2 separate regions of the Homo sapiens genome follow, and region 2 is linked to region 1. The links come from fine-mapping of genetic effects on gene expression. A gene starts in region 1. The other region holds a variant in brackets. All regions are shown on one strand. Distances are from middle to middle. Region 1 holds the start of SPPL2B (signal peptide peptidase like 2B). Region 2 has its middle 50 kb from the start of TCF3.

Region 1 (2,906 bases):
GTGTCAAGATTAAAGGCATGAGCCACTGTGCCTGGCCTCCTTTTTCTCTTTTGAGACTGGGCCTTGCTCTGTGGCCCAGGCTGGAGTGCAGTGGTGCGGTCATAGCTCACTGCAGCCTCAAACCCTAGGGTGAAGCCACCCTCCTGCTTCAGACTCCCAAATTGCTGGGATTACACACGTGAGCCGCCCCGTCCGGCTGGGGCACTGTGATTTTTAATAACTCTCATGCCACCCAGTTGTCTACAATCCAGGGACAAAGAGGTTTGGGTCCCCGTCTTACAAAAAAAAGAAACCAAAGATCCAAGAGGCTATTGAATAAGTGACGTGTTGTCTGACTGCTTACTTCCTGCTGAGAGCTGCCTCAATTACATTACATGCCTGTAACCATTCATTCTCACCACCCCCTGTGAAGTGGGTGGAGTTACCAGCCCCATTTGACAAATGAGGAAACGGAGGCTAGGAGAAGGCAGCTCACTTGCCCAGTCAAAAATGCTAGGCTGGGCATGGTGGCTCATGCCTGAAATCCCAGCAATTTAGGGGGCTGAGGCAGGCAGATCGCTTGAGGCCAGGAGTTTGAGACCATCCTGGCCAACATGGCCTCTCTACTAAAAATACAAATATTAGCCGGGCGTGGTGGTACACATTAATTCCAGCTACTCGGGAGGCTGAGGCACAAGAATCACTTGAACCTGGGAGGCGGAGGTTGCAGTGAGCTGAGATCGCACCACTGCACTCCAGCCCGGGTGACAGAGCGAGACTGCGTCTCAAAAAAAATAATGAAAATAAATAAAAGAGGTGCTTCCGCATGCGTCCTCATCATCTCTGTTGCTGGGTTTATTTGAAATTTTTAAAGAGGGGGTACCGACAGCGGGAGCCTCCTCACCTTCGCGGCCTCCCTGGAACTTTACCCGGATCGTCTTGTCGATGTACTTGGACAAGTCCAAGATGCTCTCCTTTTTCTTCTTCTCCTTATCCTGCGGGGAAAGCAGAGCGCATGAGACCTGGAGCGCGGCCCGAGCTCCACGCCCCCCGGCTCCAGATTCCGCCGCGCGCTCACCGCCATCTTGTCGCGCCGTGTGGCTCTTCGCAGGCACCGCCCCGCGCCCTTTGACCTCCCCCACGCGCATGCGCGGCGCATGCGTGGCCCGGGGTCTCGGGGCGTTGCTGGGAAACATCTGCCGTTGGTTGCGGCGGGCACCGGCCGACATGGCGGCAGCGGTGGCGGCTGCGCTGGCGCGGCTTTTGGCGGCCTTTCTGCTCCTCGCGGCCCAGGTGAGCGCGGCACCGGTCCCGACGGCACCGCGGGCTGCGGCCCTTCGGCCTCTCTGTCCCCGGGCTACGCGCAGGAACGACCCCGCTCGGCCCGTCTTGGGGGTCCAGCCTCGGGGATCCGCCGTCCCCGCGTTGTCGGCCGGCGGTGCCGGGGCTCGGCCGTGACCTTGCGGGTCTGTCCCCGGCTCCTCTCCTTTCCCCGCCTCGGAGGCCCTCCGCCGCTGCAGCGCCACTCACTTCCCACCGGGTCTGAAATTTGTGCCCCCTCCATCCTCCGGTTCTGCTTCTCCGTTTCGGGGTCTCCAGTTGCCGCCGGGGACGCCTCTCTCCGGCTCTGTGGCCTTGAGCAGGCGGCTGCCCACCCCTCTCCGAGCCTCAGTTTCCCCTTAGGCGGAACGGGCACGGTGCTAAGCTAACCTCACCCTAGGGGGTGCGGTGGGGGAACCCAGAGGCGTCCCGCGCGTCCCCCAGTAACTGGCAGCATCCTGGAGCGGCCAGGAGTCCAGCCCTGCACTGGGGTCGGATCCCCGCTCCATCTTTTACTCCGTGACCTTGGACGATGGAATTCGTGTGCAGAAGGAGGACCGACTATGGTGTGGATTCTGGAGGTTCTGTCCAGGGTGACCAGCGCCCAGGGCCAACAGGCCTTCATTATGTTCATTGTGTGTCATTTGATGTAAAGAGTGTCAGGTTCTAGTGGGGACAGTCTACGAGATCGCACTGTCATAACTGCATCTTTTATTTTCTTAATTCCAAATCTTCCCTCTCTCCTGAGTTCGGTGGCTCAGGCAATGGAACCTGGAGCAGCCCCACAAATGCAGCCCTTAACCTTCACTACCCCCTCAGAGTTCTCACTCTTAAGGCGTCGCCGCCACCTGGCTCCTCAGTCTCCACTCCTCCAGCCCCACCGCTATCCCTCTGCTGTGGCTGCCTTTGTCCACCACATCCCCAGTCCATCCTCGACACAGCAGGGGTGACCCTTTCAAAGTATGTCAGACCGTGTCGCATCCAGATGAGTGCGCCGTCCAGTTGTGACCTGGCTGCTGGGGAAGCCTGCAGCTCATTGCAGTCGCTTCACTCTCTAGTCTTTTCTCTTACCCTGAGATGCCCCTGGTCTCTGCAAGGCTGTCGGGCCCCCTCGGAAGCTTTCTGAGAACCCCAGTCCTACCCCCAGCTGCTCTGTCAGCCCCCTTTGGACTCCCCCCATTCTGCAGCCAGGCACCTAGAGCTCCCCAGACATTTGGAAGGAGGGGGAAAGCCAGAGGTGGAAGAAAGATCACAGAACTCTGTGGAGAGAGGGACTCAGTTTGCCTGGGAAGGCTTTTCCGAAGCAGATCTATTTTTTTTTTTTGAGACGGAGTCTCGCTCTGTCGCCCAGGCTGGAGTGCAGTGGCATGATCTAGGCTCACTGCAACCTCTGCCTCCCGGTTCAAGCAATTCTCCCACCTCAGCCTCCCGAATAGCTGGGATTACAGGTGCATGCCACCACTCCTGGCTAAATTTTTTTTTTTTTTTTTTTAGTAGAGACGAGGTTTCACCATGTTGGTCAGGCTGGTCTCGAACTTCAGACCTCAGGTGATCCACCTGCTTCGGCCACCCAAAGTGCTGGGATGACAGGCGTGAGCCACCGTGCC
Region 2 (2,906 bases), 630 kb before region 1:
GTGTCTCTCTATGTCTCTGTGGGTCTCTGTCTCTCCCTCTTAGTTTCCATTTCTTCTGCCTCTGTCTCTGTGTCTTTTTGTCTCTCTGTCTCTCTGTTTCTGCCTCTCTCTGATTGTGTCTCTTCCTATCTCTCTATCTCTGTCTTTGACTCTCTGTCTCTCTCTGCCTCTATCTCTGTTTCTGTCTCTCTGTGTCTCTCTCTGTCTCTATCTCTTCTCTATTTCACTCTCTGCCTCTCTCTGTCTGTGTCTCTGTCTTTTTCTGTCTCTTTCTCTGTCTCTCTGTGTCTCTCTCTGCCTCTATCTTTCTCTCTGTCTCTGTGTCTGTCTCTGTCTCTCTGTCTCTGCCTCTCTCTCTCTCTGTCTCTATCTCATTCTCTGTCTCTCTGTCTCCCTCTCTCCTCCTCCCTCTCTCTCTTTGCTCCCCCCTCTCCATCACAGAACCCAAAGCAGGACCTGAGATCTCCCCCAGAAGGTGCCCTGGGGAGCCCCCATCACAGCTGAGGACGGGCAGACTCAGGATCACCCCCGTGGCTCCTGGCCCCCGCCCGGCCCTGGCCGAGTCTCCTGTCCACCCAGCCTTTGTTCAAGTTTGAACCTTCCCCACACATCAGAGGCTTCAGATTTCCCCGGAGAATCCGATTTGGGCCACTCCGACGCTGCAGCTGCGTCTGTATTCCGGGCGGGTCCCGGCCCCACAGACTTCCCGCCATGGCCCACTTCCTGGCACGGGTTGGTTGGCCCCTCACCGGCTGTGAGGTGGGGTCCCTCGCCAGTGGGCAGATGAAAGCAGTCTCCCCTCCTTTCCCCAGCCCCCCGGCCGGAATCCACAGCCTCAGGTGGTGGAAAGAGCACTGTGCGGGGGGAGTCACACCCTCCCAGGTTGGAGTGTCCCTCACAGTGGGACCCTGGAGCCTCAGGGCTCTCGTCTGCAAAGTGGGGGTGAGTTTGAGGAAACAACACCATTTCCTGGAGACAGGCAAGGGCCCCTTAACGGCCAAGACACTTGCAGTACAAGAACTAGGAAACTGGGCTGGGCACGGTCGCTCACACCTGTCATCCCGGCGCTTTGGGAGGCCTAGGTGGGTGGATCACCTGAGGTCAGGAGTT[C/T]GAGACCAGTCTGTTCAAGACCAACCTGGCCAACACGGTGAAACCCCGTCTCTACTAAAAATACAAAAATTAGCTGGGCGTGGTGGTGTGCACCTGTAATTCCAGCTACTCAGAAGGCTGAGGCAGGAGAATCGCTTGAACCCGGGAGATGGAGGTTGCAGTGAGCCGAGACCACACCACTGCACCCCAGCCTGGGCAACACAGCGAGACTCCATCTCAAAAAAAAAAAAAAAACAGAAAACAAACAAAATAACTAGGAAACTGTACTTAAATGGCAAGAACAATTGAGTGAAGGTGGGGTGGAAATTCAAATCCAGCTGCAGTATCAGTATTTTCCAAAATGTCTACAATTTTCACTTGTTACCTTGGGCGAGGCACAGTGGCTCTTGTCTATAAACCCAGCTACTCAGGAGGTTGAAGCGGGAGGATCGCTTGAGCCTGGAGGTTGAGGCTGCAGTGAGCTGAGATCACACCACCGCATTCCAGTCTGGGCGACAGACGGAAACCCTGTATCTAAAGAGAAGAGAAGAGAAGAGAAGAGAAGAGAAGAGAAGAGAAGAGAAGAGAAGAGAAGAGAAGAAGAGGAAGAGAAGAGAAGAGAAGAGAAGAGAAGAGAAGAGAAGAGAAGAGAAGAGAAGAGAAGAGAAGAGAAAAGAGAAGAGAAGAGAAGAAGACACCACAGGCCAGGCGCAGTGGCTCATGCGTATAATCACAGCGCTTTGGGAGGCCAAGGTGGGAGAATTGCTTGAGCTCAGGAGTTCGAGACCACCCTGGCCAACGTAGCAAGGCCCCATCTCCAGAAGTTTTGTTTTGTTTTTTTTTTTTTTTTTGAGACGGAGTCTCATTCTGTTCGCCCAGGCTGGAGTGCAGTGGCATGATCTCGGCTCATTGCAACCTCTGCCTCCCGGGTTCAAGCGATTCTCCTGCCTCAGCCTCCCGAGTAGATGGGATTAAAGGCGCTCGCCACCATGCCCAGCTAATTTTTGTATTTTTGTAGAGACGGGGTTTCACCATATTGGCCAGGCTGGTCTCGAACTCCTGACCTCGGCCTCCCAAAGTGCTGGGATTACAGGCATGAGCCACTGCACCTGGCCGAAAATTTTTTTTAGAAAAGAAAAGGCGCAACAATGAGCATCCTTGGACATGAATCTCTTACACTCTCTGAAGTTTTTCTTCAGGACAAATTCATCCTGGAGTTGCTTGTCAAGAGACCATAAAACAAATAGTAAGGCTTTTGATACATTTTATCAAATTATCTCTGAAACTTCATAAAATACATATCCTTCCATTGTACATCAGCCTGTTCATTTACTCTCATCCATGCCAATAATGGGAGTTGTTATATATATATAATATATAATATTATGTATATCACATATTATATATAGTATATATAATATAATTATATATAATAAATATATTAAAAATTATATAGTTTATATAATTATATAATATATAAATATATATTTCATATATAAATATATGTATTTATATATAAATGTATATTTCATATATAAATATATGTATTTATATATAAATGTATATTTCATATATAAATATATGTATTTATATATATAAATACATATATTTAAATATATATATTTTTAGACGGAGTCTTGCTCTGTCGCCCAGGCTGGAGTGCAGTGGTGTGATCTCAGCTCACTGCAAGCTGCGCCTCCCAGGTTCATGCCATTCTCCTGCCTCAGCCTCCCGAGTAGCTGGGACTACAGGCGCCCGCCACCATGCCTGGCTAATTTTTTGTATTTTTAATAGAGACGGGGTTTCACCGTGTTAGC

Evidence for each region. PIP is the estimated chance that this variant, and not a neighbour inherited with it, causes the effect.
Region 2: its variant is the best candidate, but not a certain one, in a credible set for the expression of SPPL2B in minor salivary gland (GTEx, PIP 0.88).

Annotation. Positions count from the first base shown.
Region 1 is chr19:2,327,504-2,330,409 of GRCh38, forward strand. SPPL2B (signal peptide peptidase like 2B) reads left to right here and starts at 1,181. Exons shown (of 15, transcript NM_152988.3): 1 at 1,181-1,272. The coding sequence starts at 1,207. LSM7 (LSM7 homolog, U6 small nuclear RNA and mRNA degradation associated) reads right to left here and starts at 1,083. Exons shown (of 4, transcript NM_016199.3): 1 at 1,058-1,083; 2 at 884-974. The coding sequence starts at 1,063. RefSeq lists silencers at 88-187, 1,208-1,467 and enhancers at 458-517, 798-1,452, 888-937, 948-997.
Region 2 is chr19:1,700,842-1,703,747 of GRCh38, forward strand. No RefSeq gene overlaps it. Among named protein-coding and RNA genes, the nearest start is that of TCF3, 50 kb to the left of the region's middle. The variant C/T (reference allele first, on the strand shown) is at 1,111.